Homo sapiens: one gene and its partners. The protein of the gene in region 6 purifies or fractionates together with the protein of the main gene of each other region. This does not show direct contact. Each region holds a gene or a part of one and is shown on either strand. Other genes may lie near its edges.

Region 1 (3,898 bases), on a different chromosome or scaffold from region 6:
AGAAATCCTATTTGTGAACAACATGACCATGACTGAAATTGCTGGCCAGGATCTTTTTCTGGGATCCTAACAGGCTTACATGACAACCATTTCTTAGCTTTTTTACGCGCTCAGTTCTCATTGAGCTAGTTATCTCATCAAGGGACTCAATCCTCTATATATGCATAAGTGTACATAAATTAGTCCTTATGAAGCACTCCTAGTTTAAGGTTTGCAATTTTTTCATGTATTTGTTACGTTGCCCTTTAAGGTAAAATTTGTAGTTTAAGAAGCTAAGAGGCTTTTTAAAAGCAAGAATAATATGCTTATAGTGCCACTTTAATCAATTTATTTTAATTTTGGTGTGATTTTAAAAACCTTTCTCAAGAAAAAGCCCATGGGCCAGGTGCAGTGGCTCGCGCCTGTAATCCCAGCACTTTGGGAGGCCAAGGAGGGCAAATCCAGTCAAGAGTTCAAGACTAGCCTGGGCAACATGGCAAAACCCCATCTCTACTAAAAATATTTAAAAAATTAGCTGGACATGGTGGTACATGCCTGTAATCCCAGCTACTCAGGTGGCCTAAGCATGAGAATCGCTTGAACCCAGGAGGTAGAGGCTGCAGTGAGCTGAGAACGCGCCACTGCACTCCAGTCTGGGCGACAGAGCGAGACTCTGTTTCAAAAAAAGAAGCCTATGATTTAAATTATTCATAGAATAAAGTTGGAACATTCCAACAGACCAACATAAAAGGCTGAAGTGACTGTGCACATCTCTCAGTCTAGATATGTTGATTCCAATCTTGACTACGTTTAGACTAGAATCCAAATAGCCTGATTTCAAGTATAAAGCTTCTTTCACTAGAATATATTATTTGAATATGTCTTCAGTTTTGTCTTTACCCGATAATAATACAAGCATGCATTAGTGAAAATACATACCAAATTAATTTCTTCTGGATTGAAATCCTCAGCCAGGAAAGCAGTCCTAGTTAAAACTTCATGGCGCTTTGTTTCATGAATCTGGTCCAGTTTAGTCCCTATTACCAACAGTGGTATTTGGTTATCAGCAAACTGTTCTTGATCATAATCCCTGTGATAAATAATAATGAAGAGGTGAATAGAATGTATCTTTCTGGTGTAGATGTGTAATATTTAAGTGCAACTAAGTTACACTATTTTACTGAAAATTAACTGATTTTTGCTGCCTTCACCTACAAACCTACTTTCCTTCCAACTTCTTCCATCTACTTGTTCTTTTATCAATCCATCCTCATCATCAGATTCCAGCTATTCATCTAACTTCTCAAAATTTGGTCCCATGTTTTTATTGAATATTGAACAATACTGAATAATTGAACAACTAAGTGCCCATCAAGTATATTACAGTCAGTGGACTTAACTTCCAATGTAGCTGTGTCTTCTAAGGTTAACATAACAGCTCAGGAATATTTCAGAGTAGAAGCAGAGAGTGGATTTAAGCCTCATCGTAGCAAAAACCCAAAAGCCTAGCATGGCACTCAAGCCTTGTGCTAGAAGAGAAAATGGCAAGCTTCTTGGGTACCTTTTGGGGTATGCATTAATTCTATATCTACAATACACATTTCTGTCTGAATAGTAAAGAAATAAGAAGAATAAGAAAATAGAAATAGGGAAGCTGAAGCCTAGAATAAATCAAATATAGGTGATACTATAGCCTGGGAAAGGTGGATTAAACACATGGAAATGGAAGGAAACAGCTGAAATGCAAAATGAATAGTAAAAGGAAAGAACTTAGTACCAAGTAGTTGTTTCCTGAAATGAGAGCCATGGGAGATAGAGGACGGGCAATAAGAACCACTTAGGGTTAGTGGCCTTGGATCACTGGCTATTACAATCCTTATTTTTTAAAAAATTTATTTATCCAAAGAACAGAGTGGTGATGTAAATGATACTTCTCATTACTGAAAAGAACACAGAGGCCATTGCTGTTGAATTAATTTAAATTCTACTCACATATTAGAAATAAAACAGATTTGGATTTCTGACACGTTATAAGCTCAACTTACAACAGTCAGCAAAATCTGGTTGTGCACAATTTATGACAGTAAATCAATATTGCATAATCCAATCACTACAACCCAGTCGAGCATAGCTTTTTTTCTTCCTTTAACACTACTTTTCTTTCTCTTACAGAAATTCTAAATTGGGGTAGGGGGCAAAGTTACTAAGTATTTATGCCCTTCACAATAATCTTACAGCGCCTCAGCAAACTGTTCAGCCTCGGAACACAAGTGTTTTACTATACAACCTCCCATCTCACAAAAATATTACCATTCTATTTATTGCATCAAAGCCAATAATAGCATGATCAAGACCTTTGATTATTCATATCAACAGCAACTCTAATTAAAGAGACATGGTTCAAAGCTACAATTCGCTTTGTTAGGGAATGAAGTTTTGAGAGTGTCTTTCCTTTAGGACTGTTTCCTTCTGTCTCACATACAAAGTTTTGCATATCTTCTATCAAATATCATCTTTGATGTACATACATCTCTCATATAGTCTTGCACAATTCCTTGCACACTGACACATATAAAGCATACATATATAGTTTGCTCTCTTATTTCTCTTTTTAGCTTTCCTTTTAACTTTTTCATAAAATCTTGCAGCATCCAATTTAAAATTTAATCTTGAAATCTTCTTTGGTAAACTTCTGAAGAACTTTATCATGGATGGATAAGGCTGATAGCTCCTTAACATCACAAAGAGACACACAGCCAGGTATCATATTATATGCATAATACTGGGTGGAAAAATAAAGACAAAAAAACTTGCATCTTTCAGACCACTATATTTAATTATCACTTCAGAGAAGATTTAGAATTCAGAGAAACAAGTTTAAAAGACAATACAGGGAGACAATCAGCAAATCCAGAATATAGGAAACTGTACAAGACAAACAGCCATCTTCTTCTACAAATAAAGTGCTAGGAGGTTGGAAAAAAAACAACCAAAAAGGGAGAACCTAAGATTAAAAGATACTTAAGAAACCAAATACAACCAGTGGACCTTATTTAGATACTATTTCGAAAAAATCAATTATAACATTTATGAGACAATTGGGGAAATTAAAATAATATTTGGTTATTAAAGAATTATTATTAAAGTTTTAGCTGTGATAATTATATGGTGTCATGTTAAAAAAAAGCCCTTATGTTTTAAAGTATATATGGATGAAATGATATGATGTTTTAACATTTGGTTCAAAATAATCCAGTTGAGAGTGGGAGAAGATAGAAAGTGGGTAGAGATATGGATGAAACAAGACTAGCTATATGTTGATAATTGTTGAAACTAGGCAACGGGTATATGGGAGTTCATTTTCCATTCTTTGTATTTACATATGTTTAAAATTTTCTATAATAAAAAGTTAAAAAAAGTTATTGTGGTAAAAACTACATAATATAAAATTTACCTAAATTGTTTAAATATGGCTAAAAACTCAAACTGATATAAAAGATATATGCTAAGCAGTCTTGCTCCTACCACTGTACCCATCCACCCATCTCCCCTGGCCCCCTATAGGTTACCATTTTTATTAGTTTCTTATTTTTCACTGATTCTTTATCCAAATATAAATACATATTATTTCTTTTCTTTCTTATACAATAGGAGGTATACGATATATATTCTCTGCATTTTGATTTGTTAAACCTAATAATGTACCCTCTGTAGATCTTTCTATTTTAGTTCATAGAGATCTTCCTGATTCTTTTTTAAACATTGAATACTACTCCAGTATGTGGATATGCCATTATTTATTCAATGAATCTTTCGTTGCTCGGACACTAGGGTTGTTTCCAAATTTTTTGATGCTATACAATAATGCACCAACAAAGCACACCAATGTATTAAGGTTGTTTTATACATTTGCAGGTTT
Region 2 (4,350 bases), on a different chromosome or scaffold from region 6:
TTTTCTAAGTTTCAATGCTCTTTTTTCTGTGGTTACTTCTCACATACTGAAGACAAAGCATGAGCAGTGGAGCTCTAAGCAAATTACAGAGGGAATTCAGGGGCTCAGTGACATTTTATTCATTAAAAACAGTAATAAAAAATACAACAGGCCGGGTGCAGTGGCTCATGGCTATAATCCCAGGACCCTGAGGGGCCGAGGCAGGAGGATGGCCTAAGCCCTGGAGTTTGAGACCAGCCTGGGCAAAACGGTGACATCCCGTCTCTACCAAAAACGAAAAAACCCTCGAAAATTAGCTGGGCATGGTAACACATGCCTGTAGTCCCAGCTGTTTGGGAGGCTGAGGTGGAAGGATCGTTTGAGCCTGGGAGACAAAGGCTGCAGTGAGTCAAGATTGCTCCACTGCACTCCAGCCTGAGCAACAGAGCAAGACCCCATCTCGAAACAAATAAAAAAAAAACACTACAACAAATTCATTTCTTATTTTCATCCCTTCCAGGGATCAGAAAGCTGACACTGACAGAGAAAGAGAAGACACAGGTCTGGTTCTTTGGCACCACTTCAGAGGTCTCCATCGTCCACAGGTCAGAAAAGCAACCCAGAAAAGTATAGGACAAGTCACCTCAAACAAGAGGCAGGTGTGTGTCTGTCTCTGACTCATTCTGAAGAACCTCCTCCAAACTCAAGACTTCAACTGTCATTTCTGAGTTAATGTCTCCGAATTGCACATTCGTAACCTCAACCGTCAGACGTCCCCAAGACGAGCTCATCTTCCCCACGACAAGCTCTCTCAGTGGTCACGTGGGCTGAGCCCAGCGCCCAATGTCACATGGGGTTCTGTCACGGCTGCGTCCTAACTTTACATCCCATTGTCACAGAAGCTCCGTGTTCTCCTACAAAGCTGAAGTCTGCCTGTGCTGCTTCTCGGTTCCATGGCATTCTCCCAGCTCTCAGAATGTTCACTCAGTAAACCCCGGTGGAGACCCTACCATGTGCTGGGCATGGAGCACCACAGCTAACGAGAAGACCTGCCTGCCCGAGGAGCTGACGACCTCGTTGCGAAGAGGGACACTGAACAATCCCTGCTTTACTTTTTTTTTTTTTTTTTTTGAGACGGAGTCTTACTCTGTTGCCCAGGCTGGAGTGCAGTGGCGCGATCTCGGCTCACTGCAACCTCTGCCTCCCAGGTTCAAGCATTCCTCCCACCTCAGCCTCCCAAGTACCTGGGATTACAGGTACACGCCATCACGCCCAGCTGATTTTTGTATTTTTAGTAGAGACGAGGTGTCACCATGTTGGTCAGGCTGGTCTCGAACTCCTGACCTCAGGTGATCCGCCCGCCTTGGCCTCCTAAAGTGCTGGGACTACAGGAGTGAGCCACTGTGCTCGGCCTCAATCCCTGCTTTACTGCTGGCTTAAGTATCACCAAGGCAGGGTTTAGCGCTCTTGAGAAATACATAAGACGGTGGCCCAAACTGCCTTAGGGGAAGGGGAGTGTGGGAAAAGTCTCCTTAGGTAAATGACGTTGAAGTTAGGACCTGAGAGCTGAGGAAGCTGATCTTCAAAACCATGTTATTACATAAAACTATGGAAGAGCAATGAGTAGGCATCACATGCTTACAAGACACACACAAGCCAAACACCTGCCGGGCAAGGCGTCCTGCCCTACCTGTAGGGTGGAACTGAACAAACTCTAGGTCCTGGCAAGGAAGGCCTGCCCTGGTGATCATGGCCGTGCCGTCGCCAGTGCTGGTGTGGGCAGACGTGCAGCTGAAGTAGGTGCGCCCGTAGCCTCTGGAAACAATAGAGAGCAGTGACTGCACACAGCGGCCCACATCTGGACCTCCTATCTGGTGAGATCACAGAATGGACACGGCAGCCCCCAGCACCGTCTTCTCAGTGCTGTGCACACACAACCCCCTACTCACGCACACCCCACACATATCACTAGGGGCCGCGCCACTGGTGCTGCTACCCTGCACAGGTAGGATAGAAGCCTGGGATCAAAGAAAGGACTTCCATTTGTATTTTATTTATTTATTTTGAGATAGGATCTAACTCTGTTGACCAGGCTGGAGTAGAGTGGTGCGATCTCGGCTCACAGCAACCTCCGGCTCCCAGGTTCAAGTGATTCTTCCGCCTCAGCCTCCCGAGTAGCTGGGATTACAGTGTGCACCACCACGCCCAGTTAATTTTTGTATTTTTAGTAGAGATGGGGTTTCACCATGTTGGCCAGGCTGGTCTCGAACTCCTGACCTCAAGTGATCCTCCCACTTTGGCCTCCCAAAGTGCCGGGATTACAGGCGTGAGCCACTGCACACCTGGCCCTATTTGTATTTTAGCTTTGTGCTGTTCAAAAGGTTTCCCCAATAAGCATATACTACTTTTATAATGAAAATTTTAAAATTTTTATGGATTTTTTTCTCCCCCAGATTTACTGAGGTATGATTGATGAATTTAAAAAAAAAACTATATATTTATGGTGTACAGCGTGATGATTTATTTTGTGAAATGATGACACAATCAAGTTAATACACATCTATCACCTCATACAATTATCCTTTTTTTGGAGATACAGACGCCTAACGTCTACTATCTTCGCAAATTTCAAGTTATAATATTAACGATAGCCACCATGCTGTATAATATTAACTCTAGCCACCATGCTGTATAATGTTAACTCTAGCCACCATGCTGTATAATATTAACGATAGCCACCATGCTGTATATTAACTCTAGCCACCGTGCTGTATAATGTTAACTCTGGCCACCATGCTGTATAATGTTAACTCTGGCCACCATGCTGTATAATGTTAACGATAGCCAGCATGCTGTATAATGTTAACTCTAGCCACCATGCTGTATAATGTTAACTCTAGCCACCATGCTGTATAATGTTAACTCTAACCACCATGCTGTATAATGTTAACTATAGCCACCATGCTGTATAATGTTAACTCTGGCCACCATGCTGTATAATGTTAACTATAGCCACCATGTTGTATATTAGACCTTCAGAACTTCACCTTGTAACGGGAAGTTACACCTTTAATCAGCATCGCCACAGTCTGCATTCCCCCAGCCCCTGGCAACCACTGTCCTACTCTGTTTCTGTGAGTTGTGACTGTTTTAGATTCCACATGAGTGACATGCAGTATCTGTCTTTCTGTGCCTGGCTCGTTTCACTTAACATAATGACTTTGGGTTCATCCACGTTGTCACACATGACAGGATTTCCTTCATTTTCATAGCCGAATAATATTCAGTTGTGTATACACACCACATTGTCATTAAACACCAACACATATTTAGGTTGTTTCCATATCTCGGGTATTGTGAATAATGCTGCAATGAACATAGGGTCCAGGTGTCTCTTTGAGCTTCTGATTTCATGCCCTTTGGATATACACCCAGAAATGGGGTTGCTGGAGCACATAGTAGTCCTATGAATTTTGAGGAACCTCCAGAGTTTTCCGTAATAGTTGTACTAATTTACATTCCCACCAACAGCACACAGGGTTCCCTTTTCTCCACATCCTCACCAACACTTGCTCTTTTGTCCTCTTGGTAACAGTCATTCTAACTGGAGCGAGATGAGATGATATCTCATTGGGGTTTTAATTTGCATTTCTCTGGTGCTTAGTGACGTTGAGCATTTTTTCATACATCAATTGGCCATTTGTATGTCTTCTCTAGAAAAATATCTATTCAAGTCCTTTGCCCATTTTTAGTAGGGTTGTTTTTTAGTAGGGTTTAGTAGGTTGTTTTTAGTAGGGTTTTTTTTTTGCTATTTTAGATAGTAAGATATTATTACACATATGGTTTGGAAAATATTTCTTCCCAACCTGTAGTTTTGCTGATTTTTTGTTTGGCTGTACTGACACTTTTTAACTTTTAAAATGGTTAAAGTAACTGACAGTGTATAAAATTAAAGTTACTTATTTTCATCATGTGGAGAAGAAGGACTTACCCACCCGAGGAATCAGTATCAATACAGTACCCACTAAAACAAGAGAGATTTTGCCAGAAAACCCCATGTTGACTCTTTGGGCCACAGTTCCCTCATCTAAATTGGGAGAGGTAAGCTGTGAACCTGAGGGCAACCACTACCATCTACTGAGGACCATGCTTTCTCACCCTGAGGCAGGTGCTCCTGTCCTCACCCTTTACAGGTGAGGAACCACGGCTGGGAAAGGCCATCACCCTCACATGGTTATATCAAGGCCTGTGTCTAAACCGTTATTCTACAATGCCTCTATTTTCATTAAAATAAAGAAACTCTAAATGAAATTTATTCATTTTTATAAACAAAATAAAGTAGAAATGAGATTCCTACCCTGTGGCAACAAC
Region 3 (4,350 bases), on a different chromosome or scaffold from region 6:
TACACACTCAGGTGTGCAAAAACCGGCGCGGGGGACATCTCACACCTTATGTAGATCAAATGCTCCTTCCCTGATCCTCTGTAGGGAACTTCCTTTTCTCTAATCCTAGATCTTTTCAAAAATTCTAACCAAAATAAAATTTAAAAAGAAGACAATGTCTTGTGTCAGCTCAGAATTAAGGGCAGATAGATAGTAAGCTCCTAGCTGTGATGTCACTAGACTCACACACCCCCATGAAGGCAGGAGCAAGTACTATCCTCCCTGGACACATGCAGACTTAGCAGAGGAAGACTCTGCAGGAAATGAGGGGCCATGCCATGATTAGGGCTCCCATGAGCCAACTCCTTGCCTGCACCTCTCACACCGGAGAAAGAACAGTAAATACTGTGTAGCTGCCTTTGGAATAAACATGTGATAGCAAGTCAGGACCCCCTTGCCACATACTGCTAGGAACACAGAACACTCACCTGTACAATCCTCTCAAACATATGAGCCAGAGGGAGGTAGGATATGGCCACATCATCAGGAGTGGGCTCATAAGCATGCTATGTAGGCCAGGGAAGTAAGAGGAGGCAACATGAGATTAATGCCAACTTTCAATTCCAATGGAGATTTTAAAACTACCTCCTCCCAGGACTACCACAGACAGCTGTATAGGCGGTACACTGTGTAGATCTGAGATGCCTTGAACTGCATATAGTGTAGAAATTTGCAGTGATCCTAAAAGACCAACGCTTGAAAATGTACAGTCCTCTAAACAAAGAACACGCTGGTGTTTGTCCACACTCCAGCCTTTAACGTGTGTGTGTGTGTGTGTGTATGTGTGTGTGTGTGTCTGCCTGCTCTAACCTCAAAAATAAAAATCTTATGACAGATTCACATTTTAATGAGAGCCTCTTTTTCAACTGACCACTGACCTCCACACATTTGAGAAAGGCAGCAGCATTTGAAACAATATTTTGATGGGTTATCATGGCTCCTTTGGGGTCACCTGTAGGAAATAAGAGGTGGAGAGAAAGATACTTTATGTAGCTAATAGGTAGCCTTTGGCCTTGAAAGAAACTAGATTCAATTGGTTTTATTCCAGAAGGCCAAGAGCATTTCCTGTCACTGTGTCTTTTTGTGGATGGTATATGCCTCTGTTTAGGAATAATTAATGCCCCCGGAGATTCTACTGCTGAATGCATCGTTGGCCTTCTACTACTATGCAGAGCACAGCCATGATTTCAGATAGAAGCACAGCTGCAAAGAAAAATTCAAGTTAACCCTCCTTGTCCCTCTGCCCCACATCTCATGCTGTTTATATGTTTGGAATTCCAGATCTACCAATATTATATAGTGATATGGTTATAAACCTTATAAACTGGGCATACTAGAAAGAATATAACTGTAGACCATGATGGACCACATTAAAAACTATTAAGCATTCTAACAGATGGGTGGATGTAGGGTGGGGTTGAAGCCCTTTATGGAGAACTATCACTGAGTTATCTTGATTGAATGAAACCATTCCAGCGGTGTCAAATCAAGAGAGTGGTGGGTTGGTGGGGGCGGGGGAAAGGACTTTCTGACATCATCTTTAAGACCCCTGAAATCTATTGAATATAAACACCTCCCAATATATTAAATAAAGTGTATTTACTTATGTTTATGTTTTTCCATTTGGGAATTCACACTTAGAAGCCTTAGGCTGTGAGCCCCTAAGTATAGGGCTCTTTAGAGGGAGTATTTACCAGCCTACCAGTGGCCAAGAATTGAAGCCATGTTCTTGGCTGACCAGGGGTCTAAGGTTCAGTTTCATGGGCACAGACCTGTGGTCCCACTGGTGAAGCAGATGACGCTCAGGTCTTCTGGGCTAGGAGGCTGGAGGAGGAAGCACAAGGGCTTATTCCACCATGAACTTTGAGAGTTGACTATGGCAAGGCTCAAATTCAGGCAGAAGAAAACTTACCACAGGTTTTCTGAAGTGCTCTTTGCCTAGGTTCTATGTGAATGGAAAACCAAGAAAGAAAGACATTAGTTGAGATGGACAGACTGTGATAAATGTGGCCCTCTCCCTCCCTTTCCCGTGAGAACATCTCTATGGGAATATAAGCAAAATTCCAACCTGGATCAGGACCAGAAGCCAACATTCAGGAACAATGGAAGCCCCAGGGAAGAGCATAAGATTTCTCTAGAAAATCATCTACCTATAGAGGGTAGATTGCATGTTCAAACTTCCCATTGTACTCTTAAGTTTCAGTCATCTAGGGCCCTAACTAAATCTTTTTTGAAAGAAATGAATAGCTAACATTTTCAGAGCTTATTACATATCCATCACTGTCCTGAGAAATCTACATATATGAATTAAGCTAACTCTTTACAAGACCTCTGTGAGGTAGTGATTATTTTTATCACCATTTTACGGACCGAGAGAAGGGAGATGAGATTGCCCAAGGTTGCCTAACAGATGTGGAGCTGGCATGCGAACCCAAGCAGCCTGGCTCCAGGAGCCACATCCTTTAACTATTACTAAACCCCTATTTATATATTATCCACTTAGAAGTCCATACAGCTGGCCACAGAACTTTGTCCTCTCCTGGCATGAGTTTCAAAGTTGTCTTGTGGAAATTATTCTCAGAGCTTCACAGCATGAGTCTAATCTACTCCTCACGTGCCACCCCTGGAGAACAAGAACACTGTCCTCTTGGGAAGGTATCTTGCAAGTTGCCCAAGGTGTTGGACAAGCATTGGAGCTGCAAGCTAAATTTCAGATCCATACCTCAGCATCATATAGGGATAAGATCTCAATTCCACTCTTCTCCCCTCTTTGCTTCAGGTCATCATCAAAGGGGTCCATAAGGATGATCACCTTCAGGCTCGGGGTGAAGCCTTTCTCTACATTCCCTATCAGCACCAATGCCTTTTGGGGTGTGTCACAGATCACCATGGCGATATCAGCTGGAAGCCAAAATAGAACCAGAGGTCATTCCCTCTCTCTGCTAAGTACCTGATTGCCTTGCAAGAAGGAAGAGGTTTTAAAAGTTTTCAAAGCTAACAGGTGTCCAAAGGAGATTACACCTGCAAATCAGATTTATAATGTACAACCTGAAACATTCCATTGATGATAAATGAACTTAACTGAAACAGAAGCACATGTTCTTGAACTGTGCCAGCAGATTTTACAGTTTCTAGAGGAACCACAGAATTCCTTCTGCTTAAGAAGTCATTCAGATAACCTAAACAGGTTACTGAGGTGTGGTTCTATCACTGTTTTATTTGAGGAGGATAGTAGGGAATAGAAGAAAAAGAAGGGGGCAAATAGGATTTTTAGCTGACAAGTATTTTACAATTCTAAATTTTAGCATTTGCTTTGATGCATGTTTAAAGTTTCAAATGATGTTTACTGTGCAAATGGACTTACTCACTTAATCTACTAGTCCCATGACAGAAGGTAACATGTTGGATATGTGAAAGGGCTGTTACTTGCCCATCAAATTTGGACTTGTTTCTCTAACAACGACAATTATTTTCTGCAGACTCACCATGGACATTGGTACATGCTGGTTAACTGTATTGACTTGGATTTACAAAGGTAGGAAATTAAATCTGTAGCTTTACTGTGATTAAGTCAATTAAGCTCACTCTCTGGGCTTTTATCTAGTGTGTTCAGAGTGAGTAGTCTTGTCTCTATATCATCATACCATGTCACCCTGACGCATGTCATTGAAACTTCTTTCTGTGTGTATCTCTGCTTCATGGGCTTTTTGTAGCTTTCCTGAAAATTATATCCTAAGTACTACAAAACTAGAAAGACTTGAACATTTTCCGACCACAGCATTTCAAGTTTGCTTAAACAAACAAACAAATAAACAAAAAAGCAGAAATTGAAGAAATACTCAGCATTGAGAAAGAATCAAGTTGTAATGTAACAGCAAAATTTTACCCTTGTTGACAATATGTACGATGGCTTCTGGTCCCAAGGTGTCATACAGAGGTACAGCTACCATAGAGTACGTGTAACAAGCCAATTCGGAGATGATCCACTGTACAGAGAGAAGTTCAAGTAAGGACTGGAGGGCACACTGAAGAGTACCAGTTCAGTCATTCAGCCAACAAATGCTGTCTGGTTTTTTGTCTTGTTTTGTTTTGCTTTTTTTTTTTTTTTTGAGACAGTGCCTCACTCTGCTGCCCAGGCTGGAGTGCAGTGGTGTGATCATAGCTCACTGCAGCCTCAACCTTCCAGGATCAAGCAATCCTCCCACCTCAGCCTCCTGAGTAGCTGGAACTACAGGCACACATCACTATGTCAAGCTAATTTTTGTATTTTTTGTAGAGACGGGATTTCACCATGTTTCCCATTCTGGCATA
Region 4 (4,156 bases), on a different chromosome or scaffold from region 6:
CTTATTCTATGTAATGAGAACTAATAATGTAGAAGTGATGAAAAATGGGGGAAAACAATTTGTAGCTGTCACAGTAAAAACTGGCTCAGGCAAATTATCAAGAAATACTAAAGCTGGCAGTTAAAAGTTTGATGAGAGAGAGGAATATAGTCTTGAAATGTCTCCTTGCACAATACTTACAAATTTTTCAGTGGAGAAACTTGGCAGACAGATACCATGTTACTAATAATAAAACAAACTTCACCACCACTATAAAGAGAAAACCCAACATCGTCAGCCTCCTGGCATGACGCAGCGAGAACACAGCACCACCTCTGTGGTCCTCCTGTCAAAAACGCACACATCACAGGGACACTTCAGACCAACCAAAACTGAAGCACATTCAGACTACCTGACCGGTACCCTGCAAGACTGTCTCAATCATAAAAGACAGACTGGGAACTGTTTCTGACGGTAGTGAACTCGAGACAAGACAGCCAAAGGCAACTGGTGTCACCCCAGACAAAATTGGACATTGTGACTGCAAAGGACATTACTGGGCCGCTGGAGCGAGCTTGCTGGTTTGAGGGTGACCTGCATCCACGTTTCTGACGCCTATGCTGCGAGCTGTAAAGAGGGCCTCTGTTTCCAGGAAACACCACAGGAGCAAGGGGGTAACGGAACACGTCTGTAACTTACTGTCAAAGGGTTCAGAAAACAATGAGTGACATGCAAGCACACCAGAGGATGCAAATGCAAATGTAGAGAAATGTTCAGTGGAGAATGTGGGCGAAAGAGAAATAGGAGCTCTTCACGCCACAGAGCTTGAAAGTATTCCACAGTGGAGACTCCAGAGACAAATCCACCAAAGGCAGTGTGTGGTCGGTGTTTGTACAGACCAACACACAAAATGAGGTAGACAGGAAGACAGCAGCCTTCACAGTAAAACCGCTTTCACTAGAGAAAATAAGGATGTATTCTAACACTGCCATTTAGCCAAAAGTAAGTTTGTTCTTTCTGCTTCCTAAGAGCAAAAACAGGAATCACACATGTATATATTTTATCAATTTTATTGAAATATTCCAAGGATCCCAACCCCATTTAAAAATAAAAATTGTAAAGCACTCCATTCAATAAAAGCACATAAGTCCCCCTCAATAATTAGTATGACAATTCACGATACAGCTCTTACTCTGGGAGAGTTTATTTTACCCTTTATTCCAAAAGGCACAAAGTCATCTGAGGCCTCAGATATTAACCCCACTGCATGTTAATGACACACCACTGAGGTGCAGCTCAATGTAATTATTAAAGCTTATAACACACTTCCCCAAGAATTTATAGATTCTTTCTATAAATAATAATTTAAAAAATACTGCACCTTAAGACCAATACAGGCTTAACAAAAGACCTGAAATTTCTGCAAGGGCAGTTTTGTTTCTTGATAGAAGTACAACTTTTGAAAGTCTATTCCCAGCAAAAGAAACACTAGACCCAGCTTGGCCAAAGAAACAAAATAAAACAAGTGATTTCTAACACGCTAAAAGAGTACATTTTCATCAGCTCCAAAGAAAGCAGTCCTGGTCATTCAGAAGGCTCCTATGATCCCACCAGTCTGCAGTCATTAGAAATATATGCTTTACAGGCCACAGGCTGCTCTGGATTTGGTTTCAGACACCAGTGACCAGAAGAAGCCAGTTTTGCGTGTGAGGGGTGTGGGCCCCCGCTGCCTTGGGCCTGCTCACCGGGGTGGATGGACCCCCGCCGGGTCACAGCCTGCTGTCACGTCTGGACTGTTGGCCTCTTCTGCATCTGGGCTGTTGGGCTCTCCTGCTCTCTGTCCCTCAGTCACGTCATTGTCTGGCTGTCCGGTGCTGGCTGCACTCTCATTTGTGAGGATAACCCCTTCCTTCTTCTTTTCTCCCAATACCTCCAGCCCCATCATCCTGAGATAATGAAGCCGTTCATTCTTGGGCACAAAAGTTCGAATGGAGGCCTTTCCCCGCCATCCGCATAAGACGATGGGACACTGCAGAGCGTCTGGATTCCTACAAGTGAAAGTGGCTTCATGTAGAACATTAAACATTCCCATAACTAAATCGAATGAGATGTAATATGCAACTGCTTAAAAAAGAAAACCACAGAAAACCCATACCCACAAAACCCCCAAAACTACTGGGAGGACATTTCATCTGGATCCGAGGGGTAGGTTTTCTCAAAGGACTTCCTTCTTCATGTCCTGAGTAAAATTCTCACCCTCGCTTTCGCCCTGCCTCTTTAAGTTCACAATGGAGTAGAGGCCCCAAATCTACAGATTTCACATACACTTTCTACATACTTCCTTCTCAAACTTAACTTACTGTCCCCGCCACCCCGTGTCACCTCACCCCACTAAATGAGAAGCGTTTCTCCACAGGCTCCCTGCAGCTCACCTCAAGTTTCCTAAGTGGACTGAAGCTCCTGAGAGGCTGGGAGACTCTGCCCTTAGCAGGGCGTCAGAGCAGGACCCAGGACCACCGGGAGACTCTGCCCTTAGCAGGGCTGCCAGAGCAGAACCCAGGACCACTCATCCTTTTGATACTCAGTGTTAGCGTGATTTCTTCTCCAGGGACCCCACATGGCAGTCTGAGCCCTGCTGGGCACACAGTGCTCATTTCCGTTCCCAGCATGCAGTGTTACCCACAGTCAAAAACATCCCTGCCTCTCTGAACATGCTCCGAGCCTCCCTACCTTCCAGGCTCCACCTGTCCAGCCAGGAGGCATCGACGCCCCAGCAGAGATGGACGCCACCATTTCCAACCTGCACACGCCCTCTCTCAACTTATCTGATTTCTTTCATACGGGACTCTGACCTAGATTTTAGGCTCCTAACGGCCGTGTTTAATCACCTTTCCATTTTTCCTAATGTAAAGCAGGGGCACAAAGGTGGTTTTAAGAAGTGAGAGGAAAATATAAGAAATTCCCAACTCCCATCTTCTTAAAAAAAAAAAACCATTATTCCTGAAGTTGACCTGTCACCTGTGTATTTCACCAAGTAGAAACAAGTGTTTAAATATGGAAAAGTGAATCCACACCTTAAAATATCCCAATATTTTCTATGTGGGCCACATGGGACTGTTATTTTAAAAACCATTTCTGAGTCTTTGTTCAAACTCTCGTTAAAAACACCCAGAAGCCATCAATCACTAGATGCTCCTGCCCGTTCACCATCCAGACACCATCCGCCTCCAGCAGGTCCCCAGGGTGCTCATGCGCTCGGCCTCGCTGACCTCTCCAGCCCATCCATCTGTTGTTCCCTCACCAAGTTCCTGCCCCTCCCACCTCAGCCCCCACCTGTCCTCTCTCCACATGGCAGCCGGACAGCCTGAACCCTGAGGACATGTGGCCCCTCGGCCTCCCTGCCAACCTCTTACCTATCCCTCCTCCTTCCCTACTTGGCTGGGCCCGCCCCGACCCCCAGCTTGCACCTGCCTCAGGATCTGCGCTTTGGTGGTTCCTTCAAGTTAGCACTGGATCCCTGGTCCAACACTAACTTCCCAAAGAAATCTGTACAGTGGTTCTACCTATTCACTCCCCCAAATCCCAGTCAGCCGTGGACCCCATTCTGTTTCCTCCTCTCAGAAATGGTGTTGCATGTCACCAAGACGGAGCTGTTGCAGGTGAGATCCGAATTCTGCCACTCGTGAGCTGAGGAGCTCTGGGCAAGCCACCTAACTTTCTGTCCCGGCTTCCTCCTCTGGCAAGTGCTGCCAAAACCAGCACCTGCTCCCCCAAGGCCCCCCACAAGGATGCAGCGTGAATACATGCAAGCAGCGTGGAGCAGTGGTCCCGTGGGGACCGTGAGTGCAAGCGTGAGCAAATCCCATGCTCCGGCCCTAGCACTCCTGATGCAGTAACATGTCAGCAACACACATGGCTGAACCAGCCATGAGGACAAAAGAACGGAACCTCACTCAACTGTCCAATCTTCACACTTACTCTGTACAAGACAGAAATTTTCATTGGTTTCTAATGCTTAAAAAATAAGTACTATGCATTTTATTCTCTGTAAGTAAAAATTCACTTAGCCTGAGCTGAGTGTTCTATGAAACAGCATCTTCATGATGACCTACAGGAATATTTTGGTTCTGAAGTTTTCACAAGGCTACTTCTGAGGAACAATCACAAAAGGCCTGAA
Region 5 (4,006 bases), on a different chromosome or scaffold from region 6:
CAAGCCATGCTAGCTGAAAAAGGTTTTTACCCACAACCTGCCCCTTCAACTAACTGCTTTAGAGTACGTTTGCTATTTTTAGAATTCCTCTTATTGGAACCCAGCTTCTAATGTGGAAAATTTAAGTATAGTTGGCTCCTTTTATTTGTGGGTTCTGTATCCTCTGATTCAACCAACTGCAGGTTCAAAATACTAAAAATAAAACCCCACAATAAAAAAATACAGTATTAGCAACTATTTACATAATGTTCACATTGTATTAGGTATCAAATAATCTGGAGATGATTTGAAGTACACAGGAGGATGTATGTAGACTATCTGCAAATAGCACATTGTTTTATAAGAGACTTAAGCATTCGCGGACTGTAATATCCAAGGGGGATCCTGGAACTAATCCCCCACACATGCCGAGGGATGACTGAAATTAGAAATGTTCAAGCATGTACAACTTTCTACCATGCCTGTTTGTGTTGGTATAAATCATGGAACATCAAATAATAAGACAAAATCCTCCAGGTGTAAGCATCAAATACTAGTCCTCTTGCTGTTTTAGTGAGTTGCCATGTTATTGAGGAGGACTCCAGATGAGAAATAACATTGCGATCTGTATTATCTCTGTGAGAGCCTCCCAGTCTGAATTTGGCTTGGACAACAGGGATACTGTTTAATTCGGCTGCAATGTGATTAAGATCTTTTGAGTTAATGATTTCTTCATCTTTTTAGTGGGCCATGGATTTGTGAGAACACATCTTTGGAAACAAGTAACACTAACTGTAATATAGTAAATACTGATTAATCATGAAATACCAATATAGCTTTTAAAAAACACTATGTAGATGTAAAGTTGATACAAAGACACATGGAAAACTTTCAACAGTATTAACTCTAAGATTAGGACAACTTTCTCTGAATCTCTCACTCCTACATATTTGACATAAGTAATGAGATGCTATGTACCAAGAACTATGGCTCAGTTAAAAATGAAGAAGGTTCAAATACAGTGTGGTGAAAATGGTGAAGTCATTTTTATTTCAGTACTTGACAAAATACCCCATAAAATTCAAAACTTCTACCATTATACAAAAATAGGTCTCTACAAGTGATATTATCTGTCTTCATCACCAGTAGAATATATTAGGCAAAACATGTAACTTCAGTAGCCTTATAAGAAAAGTGCAGGACACCTCGAGCTACACATTCAGCAGTATTGTAATGCGTAAAAGTTTAATCTTTTCACCCATTTGATAAATACACAAGGTTTATAATTTAATGTTTTAAATTAGCATTCCACAAATATACAGGTAATTCAATAATTATTGTGCATGAATACATACACAATGCTTATATATACAAATTCCAGTTTGTTTTCATGTGCTGGCAAGGGATTTGTATACAATCATAAGCTGTGTTCATATTGGTCCCATTGAATATTCACAATACAAAAGCACAAAAGAACCATTGATTTACAAAAGGAAATCTATTTAAAATCACTTCAATTAATGATGTTTCAAAGGATTATCTTCTCATGCCAGCATGAAATTGAGTAGTTGAACCTATGAGAGAAAAACAGGAAATTCAACTGATTTCAAATTACATTGCTACCTGTATCAGACCCACCAGAGTTCACACAAAGGAAATTATTATTATTCTCCATTTTTTTAAAGCCCTTTTTTTCCTTAAAATGTCCTCTTCATACTTAAACTGAGTCTCTCCCCACTACCCCCAAGGTGGAGTGTTACTCTGTTGCCCAGGCTGGAATTCAGTGGTGTGATCTTGGCTCACTGCAACCCCCGCCTCCTGGGTTCAAGTGATTCTCCTGCCTCAGCCTCCTGAGTAGCTGGGACTATCCACACATGCCACCATGTCCAGCAAATTTTTGTATTTTTAGTGGAGACGGGGTTTCACCATGTTGGCCAGGCTAGTCTCGAACTGGTTGGTCTTGAACTCCTGACCTAGTGATCCGCCTGCCTCGGCCGCCCAAAGTGCTGGGATTACAGGCATGAGCCACCGCGCCCAGCCCATATACTTAAGCTGACTTTTAAGAGATTTTGAATATATATGTAAAAATCACCATGACTGGCTCTATGGCAAGGTAGGTGAGACTAATATTTAGAGTTTTTTTAAAGTGCTCTCAAAGTTGGATGTTCTATACCTCATACATTTTTGAAAAATCTTTTGGTCTTCAAAATCTGGGTCTTGTGAAATTTGGATGCTCAAAACAAAACAAGCCTAGGCAAACCAACAAACTCAGCTATGATAATAAAAGTTTCCTATTACTACAAGATGCTTGGGTGTAAACAAATGATTTCTTGAAGGAAGAGATAAACTACTCAATGATTCAAAGTCTCTGAATCAGGAGTGAACTGAAGTGAGATAGGGAAAAGAGGTTTTCCTTCCATGAACAGGGAATCCACCTTTATTTTAAAGTATGACTTGTTTTTTGTTTTTGAACAAAGAAAAAATAATCCTTACAAAGTATTTTAAATGGGATAGTTTTTTTCGATGATACATAAAAGCACAATATAGTAGCAGGGATAATGGTTACATTAAGTGCTTAAAGTAAGTGCTTCCTCCTTAACTCCACCCGATTTGCATGCCTTACCACTTTCTTTTTTTTTTTTTTTTCTTTGAGACAGGGTCTCGCTCTGCTGCCCAGGCTGGAGTGCTGCGGCACGGCCTTACCACTTTCTGCCATGCGCTACTTAGGAATACGTTCTCCAGTTAGGCTCTGTAGACTCAGAGTACCTTGCACACTGGTGCTCATTGTGCATTTTGTGTCATCAGTCCGCTGAATGAACATAGTAGGAAATCATTTTTGGGAGGAGTGGGATCTGGGGTGATAAATCATATTTTCACTTAAATTATTTAAAGTCAGTTTCTCTGCTGGTTACAAGAGTTTAAGCTTTGGCTAACTTAATAATTAGCTCATGCACTAAACTGGAAGCTTTGATTATCCTAATGAGTGTGAAAGAATTTCAAAGAAAGGGGAGCTGTGGGTCTCGCACTGTGGTGCTGCCAAGATGTGGTTAAACTCAGAGCACCTGACTGTATAGTTCCAAGTCGTCTTTGCAGTGCCTCTAGCCGAGTGATATAATCTGTTAGGGCTCTGTCAGGATCGTAATTCTGAAGCTGAGAACATGCTAAAGAACCAGGATTGAAATCAGCTGGAGTGCCTGGGTACCTAAAGGATTAAAAATATGTACATGAATCAAGTTATCCAGAAATATGCATATAAGTTACCAACCTGCCTCCACTCCCTTCCCCAAAAAGGTGGGTCACTTGTACACACATAATGTATCTCCTCCAAGCTTCAGCTTTGGAGCTTGGGATGAGAAAGAGACAACTCTCCAATGAATTCAAAGATGCTACTAAGTCAACATAAGAATGTCCAATACAATGCTTGTGGCAGAGGTCTCAATAAATTGGGTATGTATAAATGTATCTTGTCATGAAGACTGTTAAGCTTTTCATAATGATCAGAGTATCAATTTTAGTCAATACTTTTCCCAATATCTAACCATAGCATACACTAAATAACACTTGGTCAGCTTGTTTGCTATACCCTTGGAAATCAGTTACAAATTTAAACACTGGTTTTTACATTTTTACATTAAGCCTTAGGTTATGTATATTTTTTTTCTTTTTTTTTTTTTTTGGAGACCAAATCTTGCTTTGTTGCCCAGGCTAGAGTGCAGTGGCGTGACCTCGGCTCACTGCAACCTCCACCTCCTGAGTTCAAGCGATTCTCCTGCCTCAGCCTCCTGAGTAGCTGGGATTACAGGCACCCACCACCATGCCTGGCTAATTTTTTTGTATTTTTTTTTGAGACAGAGTCTCGCTCCGTTGCCCAGGCCAGAGTGCAGTGGCACAATCTCAGCTCACTGCCAGCTCCGCCTCCCGGGTTCACACCATTCTCCTGCCTCAGCCTCCCAAGTAGCTGGGACCACAGGCGCCTGCCACCACGCCTGGCTAATTTTTTGTATTTTTAGTAGAGACAGGGTTTCAC
Region 6 (4,350 bases):
ACCATCGCTGCTGAGTGTCCCGGGAGCTAACATCGAACTTGCCAGTCAGCTCACTGTTACTGCTGAAAGCCTGAGACGGGGAGCTATTTTAAACAGGTTTTATGAAAATGTAAACAGAACAATGACTTCTCTGAAAACCATGAGGCTCACTTTCCTGGACCACATCTCCTTGAATGGCACAGGGTACATCAGAGCGAGCAGCTGCAGGGTCGCTGGGGACAACACAGGCTTGGCATTGGGCTCCAGCCCCTGGATCTTGTTGACACAGGGGCTTCTCATTTTAGGAAATAATACTGAAACGGATGCACCATGACAGACACTCAAAGGCTAGCTTCTTTCTGAATTAGGATGGCCACTTGGCTGGTGGCATATATGGAAACACTTTTATTTGCTTTTGGTTCCTAAGACACTTGGGCAGACTGCCCGCCGCTGCTGCTGCCATTGCTGGCCAACAGCCCCTTTGATTGCATCTTTTTTTTTTTTTTTTGCCGGGGTGGGAGAGGGTGGAATCTAACTCTGTCACCCAGGCTGGAATGCAGTGGTGAGATCACAGCTCACTGCAGCCTCGACCTCCTGGGTTCAAGCAATCCTCCCACCTCAGCCTGCAGAGTAGCTGGGACTACTGATGTGTGCCACCCCGATGAACTAATTTTTAAATTTTGTGTACAGACAGGGTCTTGCTATGTTGCCTAGGCTGGTCTCGAACTCCTGGGCTCAAGTGATCCTCCCACCTCGGCCTCCCAAAGTGCTGGGATTCCATGTGTGAGCCACTGTGCCTAGCCTGATTACAAAAACCAAAACGGACTAAATTTGTAATTTTTAAAAAAGGATGTCCTAACCCTAACTTTCACTTTTTTCTAGTGGAAGTCTCACACTGTGTCCTTCCCACTCTCGCATTTTCATAATGCTGGTCATGGGACCCTTATCAATCCTAATCATTCTTAAAATAATAATGACCTCAGAAGAGCCAAATTTTCTAAAGATGGGGGAGAGGCATCGACGATACCTCCAGGTGCCCAGCGACTCCCTGGAGGCGGTGGTCCTGGCAGTTCCAGTCCAGATCTAAAAATTCTCAACAGGACAATTTATCTACCAGGTGGACAGAGAGAGAAAGTGTTTCCAGGTCCATATATTCTTGACAAACTACCATAATCAACGCTGCCTTCCCAGCTGGACTGAGGTTGGTAAGTTGGTTTTGAAGGCTAAAACAAAAATTTTAGATGTTGAAAAAACTACCTTACATACAAAGGAGACTTAACAACCTAAACCATTGTAAAAAATAACCAACTCTTGTGAAATCTGCCATTTGAAGTAAAACTGCCATTTGAAGAAGACTCTACCCCCTCTCTCGATCCGCAGGGTGACTGGCTCCCACCCAGCCCAGGCTATGAAGACACATGTGCCTCGTCTGCGCTCCAGAGAGCATCTACTGTCACCAAGAGTTAAAACAATAAAACATCATATCTTTAAAAGCAACATAACAAAAGATACGGGAGCTGCCAAATGGGGCCCGGAGGAACACTGACAAGTAAGGTGTCAGTCTGTCCCTAAGAACACCACCATTCCCACAGACAGCTGGACTGGGTGGGTTCAGGTTGACTGGACGGAGCTGAGTGGAGCAGGAAGCTGGCGGGCTTCGGGAGCTTGTCTCGTCCCGCTTACCACGGGTGCTAGCTTATGACAGTCCAGAGCGGGGGTCTTGAGACTCTGTTTTCTGGGCTCTTCTACGCAAACCTGGAAATGGGCCTTTCCACATATTAGTTACAACCACGAAAACAGTGAGCCAAAAACAAAACAACAGCTGCATTTTGATAGCTTATCTAACAGATTTTTTTTTTGTTTGTTTGTTTTTAAGACAGAGTCTCGTTCTGTCACCAGGCTGGAGTGCAGTGGTGCAGTCTTAGCTCACTGCAACCTCCAACTCCCTGGTTCAAGCAATTCTCCTGCCTCAGCTTCCCGAGTAGCTGGGATTACAGGCATGTGCCACCACACCCGGCTAATTTTTGTATTTTTAGTAGAGACAGGGTTTCACCATGTTGGCCAGGATGGTCTCGATCTGCTGACCTTGTGATCCACCCGCCTCGGCCTCCCAAAGTGCTGGGATTACAAGTATGAGCGACTGTGCCTGGCCCAAACAGTTCTTTAAAATTCTCCATCCTATGATTAAAAAGCAGCATGTTGTCTTTCTTTAGATTCAGGAAACAGAAGTGAAGTCTTTGAAATAAATATTTTGCTGCTTTTTACATACTTCACCTTTGGATACATCTAGACTTATAGGATTATAAACATTGTTAAAAAGTGCTGATTAGTTTTCAGAATTATAAAGGAGCACAATAGTCAAAAGCGGGGTGAATGGGAAGACAGGCCACGAATTTTGAGGTTACCAGTTAATTAAATGGTAAATCACGAATGTGATCTAAAGCAATGTGCATTGATTAACATCGGGTGAGTTAAAATCAGACCATTGAGCATAATTCGCCGTAATCTTCCCAGTCCTGAGATTAGCCACCTACCCCCAGCATTTGAGTTCTATGCTCTTAGAAGTACTGGTTAAAACAAAGATATGGAATAATATGCCGGTTACCTACAGCTCAGACTGTCCAAGCTCTAAGGTTAAAGTGGTGGATATTTGTGCAAAATCGTGCTGCTCCCCCGTCTCCTTTGTAGTGCTGTCAGCTTCAGAACTCCTGGAAAAGGTGTGGCTGATCTGAAGGAACTCAGTACATGTCCCTGTAGATCTCCTGCAGTAGCGGGTGCAGCGCAGCATCCGACTCCGTCTTCTTGATGATCTGCACCAGCTGCGCATGCTCCGTCACCAGCTGCCGGAGGTCTGCCATTTTTTGAAGAAGTTTTGGGAAGAGAAAGATATCGTCCGGGTGGTTGCTCTGCAGGTGGAGTCTGAGCACATGTACAATACCCTCCTGCATTTTTTCAATGTGTCCTACGTTTAGAAGGCCAGGACGATCTAGTCTCGAAAGAAGAGAGAGAGGTTTGAGTGTGATAATCACCCAAGAACTGCTTATCAGTTTCAGGAACCAAACATGCCTATTTTATGTGGCCTTTCTTAGAAAAAAACTGAGCTGCCTTTAGATATTGTCAACTTGACTGGAAGATAGACATAGGTTTTTCCAAAGTCAATAGGTGAAGTAGGGACAGACAGGACCAGTACTCTTTCCTAAATATTCATACTACTAGGCGGCAATAGTGCCCTAAGTACACCTTATGGTGCGGCCTTTTCACTTGTGATTTACCTGATGACCACCTGTCAGGGAGAAAAATTAGAGCTAGTAGGAGGAACAGTACATTCTGGAGATCACAACCACCAGTTTTGCATAATATGGGAAATGAAGCTTTTGAATCCAAACTAGATATCAAGCTTCAAGTGTTCCACCATATTTAAGGAGTGATTGTGTTAGAACTAGGTTTTGTAGGCCAGGCACGGTGGCTCACGCCTGTAATCCCAGATACTCGGGAGGCTGAGGTGGGAGAATCGCTTGAACCTGGGAGACGGAGATTGCAGTGAGCCAAGATCAGGAGACCCAGAGTGGGGAGGAGGGTGGGGCAGGTCTGAGACTTGGTGCAGGAAGAGTCAACATTCACACCAGATGACCTGCCTGGGGTAGCTGGCACTAGACATCCTGGGACAGTCTCAAAGCATGAGACCTGATTCTTGGTCCAGAAAATACTGCCCTGAGCCATGTTCAGCAGGCGGTGCTCCCTTACAGACCCAGTCATTACTATGATTCTTAACAGGGTTGCTAGTGATGAGGATTTAAACATCTTCATTGTTTTTGGTTGTAAATGTAATTATTAAGTTTTTATTTCTAAAATTCTTGTTTTTGTATTGTTTTAGTGATGGGGTCTTGCTCTGTTGCTTAGGCTGGACTGGAACTCCTAGGCTCAAGCAATCCTCCTGCCTCGGCCTCCAGAGTGGCTGGGGCTATAACTATTAAGTCTCTAAAGAGAGGAATTATTGCCGGGTGCAGTGGCTCATGCCTGTAATCCCAGCACTTTGGGAGGCCGAGGTGGGTGGGTCACCCGGGGTCAGGAGTTTGAGACCAGCCTGGCCAATATGGTGAAACCCCATCTTTACTAAAAATACAAAAATTAGCCAGGTGTGCTGGCATGTTCCTGTAATCTCAGCTACTCAGGAGGCTGAGGCAGGCGAATCACTTGAACCCAGGAGGCGGAAGTTGCAGTGACCTGAGATCGTGCCACTGCACTCCAGCCAGGGTGACAGACGGAGACTCTGTCTCAAAAAAAAAAAAAAGGAGGAATCTTTTGAAAAATAGAAATCCCCCCTCATAATTTTAATCCCACCATAATAGGTTTAACATATATCTCACTGGA
Region 7 (4,350 bases), on a different chromosome or scaffold from region 6:
AAATGTGAAATACGGACAAAGAGTAGAAGAAATTCACATAAATAAAGCCAAAGAATTTTAGAAAAAGAGCAGAGCCATCAGTTGAGGAGATGGAATTGTAAGAGATTATTTTCCTTCAATGTGATACTTGAACAAAAATGTGAAGACTTAACTTAAAATATCTTCAGAAAGCACAGATGTTTTGACTGTCTTTATAGCCCATGATTTATAAACAAGCATCGACCTCGTAAGTTCGCCCCTTCCACTTACACAGACATGGTCTAAACACTGCACTGCAGGTAAATGTTCAATTTTACAAACTGCAGGAACTGGTTGAGGATTCGTTTGGCACTTACTTTGCCAAGGAGCCCTTTGTCTTTGGACAGGAAGCCGCCACTGTTCTTCACGGCAACGTCGAGCGTTCTCCTCTGCACTTCTGGTAACGAAACACTGAAATCAAAGCTGAAATAGGAAACGAGAGCCTTACTTTATCCATCATTCTGCTGTATTTTCTTATAACTAAAAATGGCATTTCTGCTCATGAGATCATTCCAAATGTCATGTTTGTTTTTTATTATAAAACTGAGTTCTTCTACCTAATGTTTTAATCTGGCATTTCAGGAAGACTCAAAAACCAACATTTTTTTCATTTCCCACACATAAAAGAAGGCTCTGGCATCCCATAGATGTCTGGGTCCCAAGGTCCCTGGCTCACTCACGGGTGGGTGAGGAGCGTCTCTCAACATGTCTGACTCTTCCAGGGGATTAAAATGTGGGATAATGTTGACAAAACAGCAATTCCAGAGCAGCCCACTCACTCAGGCTTTCCACTCAGTCTGGTTTAGTCTTCAGGCCCTATTCCCACCATCTCCAATAAAAAAAAGTATGTGCTTGCAGCTTCGCAGGAGGGAGAAGGCCTCCAAAGCACTCCCGATGCTCAGCCAGACGCTGCACTAAAGTGCCTGCAGGGCGTCTCTCCTCCGGGCTGCGGGTGCCTGCCCCAGGCCACCGTGCTGGGGGGCAAGTGGAGTCTCCAGACGCTTAAATGCCTCGGATGGGTAGGAGCACCCTGCACAACCTCATCGGGCTGATGCACGCCTGCCAGTTTCTGATGGGTGTTTTACATAAAGCTACTTGTATGAAAGTACAATGAATGAGGAGGATGTTTAAAGATGAAACGTAAACTGAATTAGCAGATAGCGACACCATACAACTGTATTATTATCATTTCCCAAAACAAGGGTGGGTTTTGAAGCACTAGGGGACAATCACCTAAGATACCAAAATGGTACAGATTAGCAGCTCTTTAAAAGTGGGGGCCAATGACCCCTGGGGGTGTCTCTGAGACCCTCCTAGGAGGTCACCAAATCACCCTGACCACAGAAGCAGGCTCCAGCCCCTCTTGAGCCAGACCACTAAAGAGATGAGCAAAAATGCTGAACAATAATACCATTCTTTTCATTATGTTTTTTATTTTTGGAAATACAGTTGTTTTTCCAATATGTCATACGGTAAGATGTTTGGGGCTTACTGTTATTTAAAAATAAAATTAAAAATATATGTATCCTTAAATTCTCAGTTTTAATTGATAACATAGTTAAGTGTCAACAGATATAACCCCCAAAAATGAGTTCTTCAGGGCCATCAGTAACCTGATCTTTATTTAATCACTAGTCTACATGTCCACAGGGTTGTAACTTGAATTTACTGTATTTAGAGCTTCTACATGAAGGTCAAAATGCTTATTTGTTTTGAGAAGTATGTTTGCTAAAAGTTGGTTTCTGATTGAACTTCTCAACAGCTGATTTATGTGCTTTGGCCACTCAAAGGCACCATTTAGGGCCTTCTTAATCCGTCACTTCAACCGGGCAGTCTATCCTCAGCTGGATAAAATACCGTACCTTTGATCAAACACTGGATTTAATGTTTTCTTTGACACGTGTGTTTTCCTCCTTCCTGACCGCCTCTTGTCTGGTAATAAATACATGCGGACATAGGGGTCAGAGCCGTCTTCAGAGAAGGCAATGAGGTTTCTTACAACACAAACCAGATAAGACGAGGTATTAGGACCGAGAAAAAGAGAATGAGCAGCACATTCAGATATGCTTTATCAAGCTTTGATTTCATGTTTATCTACAAACCGAGAAGCAACAAGGAACAGAATGCGTGAGGCGCTTTTGCCTCCCCCGACGGCTGCCTGGTGGCATCTCCCAAACTCCTTTCTTAGTGGCTTTCTCAGCAGCGACTTCGGCCTTCATTTCTCAAGCCCAGAGTTTGGAGGACGTTCCAAGTCCTTGGTCTCTGCTTGTAACAGAGTGACGGTTGTCTTTCCATAATGCTTCTGCCATTTTCTCTCTCACAGCCAAGAAAGCCAGGCCCCCACCCCACAGTGCCTACCCCTCCAGAAGGGGGCTGCTCCTTTGCAGCAAACGCGGTCAGGTGCCCAGCTGCACAGGCCCCCACATTCTTCGCTTGCTGACTGACCACAAAGTCTAGGAGGGATTGTTTTGCTAGACTCCTCTACAACAGTATCCCCCACGATCATTATCTAAGTGGCAAGAATATATGAACTTCTCAAGAGTGATGTACTGAACTCTACATTTTTATCATCTTTCTAAATGGTGCTAATTTTATTTTCCTATGTTTCCAACAGCTATTTATAAGCACCAAATTTTTATATCATATTTTAAACCACTAATAGGACAGAGAAAATTGCATAAAAGGAAAATAGTTCGTAAGCCCACAGTATCATTGTTAACAAATGCAATTAATGCAACAGTCACCTGACTTTATACTTATTAATATAACAAACAAGTTAAAATAAATTCTTCCTGATTAGGCCAGTCATGGTGGCTCAAGTCTATAATCCCAGTGCTTTGGGAGGCCAGGAATTAGAGACCAGCGTCTCCATAAAAAAATTAAAAATTAGCCAGGCCTGGTGGCTTCCACCTATAGTCCCAGCTACTCAGGAGGCCTGGCCAACATGGTGAAACCCCGTGTCTACTAAAAATACAAGTTAGTCGGACGAGGTAGTGCACGCCTGTAATCCCACCTACTCGGGTGGCTGAGGCAGGAGAATTGCTTGAACCCAAGAAGCGGAAGTTGCAGTAAGATGAGATTGTGCCACTGCACTCCAGCCTGGGGGACAAAGTAAAACTCTGTCTCCAAAAAAAAAAAAAAATACACACACACACACAGACACACACACACACACACACACACACACACACACTCTTCCTGCTCTAGGCTACACATTTGTACAGTATGCTACTGTGCTGAATACTGTAGGCAATTGTGACATATTTGTGTATTTTTTTTTCTTTTTGAGACAAAGTTTCGCTCTTGTTGCCCAGGCTGGAGTGCAATGGCACGATCTTGGCTCACAGCAACCTCTGCCTCCTGGGTTCAAGTGATTCTCCTGCATCAGCCTCCCTAGTAGCTGGGATTACAGGCATGCACCACCACACGTGGCTAGTTTGTATTTTTAGTAGAGACAGGGTTTCTCCATTTTGGTCAGGCTGGTCTCGAACTCCAGACCTCAGGTGATCTGCCCACCTCAGCCTCCCAAAGTGCTGGGATTACAGGCGTGAGCCACCATGCCAAGCCATATTTGTGTATTTAAACACATAAAAGGTACAGTAAAAATACAGTATGATCTTAGGGGACCGTTGTACTTCGGTGACCAAAACGTTGTCATGTGACATACGCAGTGGTGACACCCTTTACGAGCACCGTCTCTAGAGGTTTAATTGCTTTGTCCTTTCTAAATGAAACATAAATGGATGTTTGGAAATCCTAAAGGCGGTGTCTACATCATCCTATCCAGCATCCACACTCAGCAGCACAGCAGCGGGCGCGTGGGACCCCAGCCCCCACCTGCAGGCATGCACGACCACGATAAGCTTGTTTCTCTGCGAGCTGTGCCGGATGGTCAGCTGGATCTGCCCCAGTGGAGACTGTCCCAGGGTCGTCCCGCTGTGGGAAAAGAGCAGAAAGTCACCAGCTTGCCTGAGACTGGAGAACGTTGTGATTCATTGGTCCACTGTACACGATAAAATAATTTCTATTCATTTAGACAAAAAGAAGTCAAATTACCCATGAACTTAAACATAATTTGAAACTTCTGGGTACAAGTCAAACAGATGAATATTTTACTTGAGGGTTCAATATAAATTAATTATTCAAAACTGACATTATTTCTTTTGTTTTTGTTTTTTGAGACGGAGTTTCACTCTTGTTGCCTAGGCTGGAGTGCAATGGCGCAATCTTGGCTCACTGTAACCTCCGCCTCCTGGGTTCAAGCGATTCTCCTGCCTCAGCCTCCTGAGTAGCTGGGATTACAGGCGCCCGCCACCACGCCCAGCTAATTTT

The links.
Region 1: the proteins of PPARA (region 6) and RABL3 purify together in Homo sapiens (co-immunoprecipitation; one large-scale study listed by IntAct). This does not show direct contact.
Region 2: the proteins of PPARA (region 6) and SDHA purify together in Homo sapiens (co-immunoprecipitation; one large-scale study listed by IntAct). This does not show direct contact.
Region 3: the proteins of PPARA (region 6) and ACSL5 purify together in Homo sapiens (co-immunoprecipitation; one large-scale study listed by IntAct). This does not show direct contact.
Region 4: the proteins of PPARA (region 6) and NSUN2 purify together in Homo sapiens (co-immunoprecipitation; one large-scale study listed by IntAct). This does not show direct contact.
Region 5: the proteins of PPARA (region 6) and AKAP9 purify together in Homo sapiens (co-immunoprecipitation; one large-scale study listed by IntAct). This does not show direct contact.
Region 7: the proteins of PPARA (region 6) and ESYT2 purify together in Homo sapiens (co-immunoprecipitation; one large-scale study listed by IntAct). This does not show direct contact.

The regions. Positions count from the first base shown.
Region 1 is NC_000003.12:120,697,505-120,701,402, forward strand, and holds part of RABL3 (rab-like protein 3), read right to left. Parts: intron 1,070-3,898; coding exon 919-1,069; intron 1-918. UniProt on the Homo sapiens protein: Required for KRAS signaling regulation and modulation of cell proliferation. Regulator of KRAS prenylation, and probably prenylation of other small GTPases. Required for lymphocyte development and function. Not required for myeloid cell development.
Region 2 is NC_000005.10:228,320-232,669, reverse strand, and holds part of SDHA (succinate dehydrogenase [ubiquinone] flavoprotein subunit, mitochondrial), read right to left. Parts: coding exon 4,337-4,350; intron 1,795-4,336; coding exon 1,670-1,794; intron 1-1,669. UniProt on the Homo sapiens protein: Flavoprotein (FP) subunit of succinate dehydrogenase (SDH) that is involved in complex II of the mitochondrial electron transport chain and is responsible for transferring electrons from succinate to ubiquinone (coenzyme Q).
Region 3 is NC_000010.11:112,408,097-112,412,446, reverse strand, and holds part of ACSL5 (long-chain-fatty-acid--CoA ligase 5), read right to left. Parts: intron 4,026-4,350; coding exon 3,926-4,025; intron 2,941-3,925; coding exon 2,762-2,940; intron 1,985-2,761; coding exon 1,952-1,984; intron 1,864-1,951; coding exon 1,812-1,863; intron 992-1,811; coding exon 918-991; intron 546-917; coding exon 468-545; intron 1-467. UniProt on the Homo sapiens protein: Catalyzes the conversion of long-chain fatty acids to their active form acyl-CoAs for both synthesis of cellular lipids, and degradation via beta-oxidation.
Region 4 is NC_000005.10:6,598,206-6,602,361, forward strand, and holds the end of NSUN2 (RNA cytosine C(5)-methyltransferase NSUN2), read right to left. Parts: intron 2,028-4,156; coding exon 1,721-2,027; 3' UTR 1,034-1,720; downstream 1-1,033. UniProt on the Homo sapiens protein: RNA cytosine C(5)-methyltransferase that methylates cytosine to 5-methylcytosine (m5C) in various RNAs, such as tRNAs, mRNAs and some long non-coding RNAs (lncRNAs).
Region 5 is NC_000007.14:92,107,669-92,111,674, reverse strand, and holds the end of AKAP9 (A-kinase anchor protein 9), read right to left. Parts: intron 3,182-4,006; coding exon 3,042-3,181; intron 1,554-3,041; coding exon 1,516-1,553; 3' UTR 1,002-1,515; downstream 1-1,001. UniProt on the Homo sapiens protein: Scaffolding protein that assembles several protein kinases and phosphatases on the centrosome and Golgi apparatus. Required to maintain the integrity of the Golgi apparatus. Required for microtubule nucleation at the cis-side of the Golgi apparatus.
Region 6 is NC_000022.11:46,233,748-46,238,097, reverse strand, and holds part of PPARA (peroxisome proliferator-activated receptor alpha), read right to left. Parts: intron 2,966-4,350; coding exon 2,718-2,965; 3' UTR 1-2,717. UniProt on the Homo sapiens protein: Ligand-activated transcription factor. Key regulator of lipid metabolism. Activated by the endogenous ligand 1-palmitoyl-2-oleoyl-sn-glycerol-3-phosphocholine (16:0/18:1-GPC). Activated by oleylethanolamide, a naturally occurring lipid that regulates satiety.
Region 7 is NC_000007.14:158,735,168-158,739,517, forward strand, and holds part of ESYT2 (extended synaptotagmin-2), read right to left. Parts: intron 3,955-4,350; coding exon 3,856-3,954; intron 2,013-3,855; coding exon 1,881-2,012; intron 442-1,880; coding exon 336-441; intron 1-335. UniProt on the Homo sapiens protein: Tethers the endoplasmic reticulum to the cell membrane and promotes the formation of appositions between the endoplasmic reticulum and the cell membrane. Binds glycerophospholipids in a barrel-like domain and may play a role in cellular lipid transport.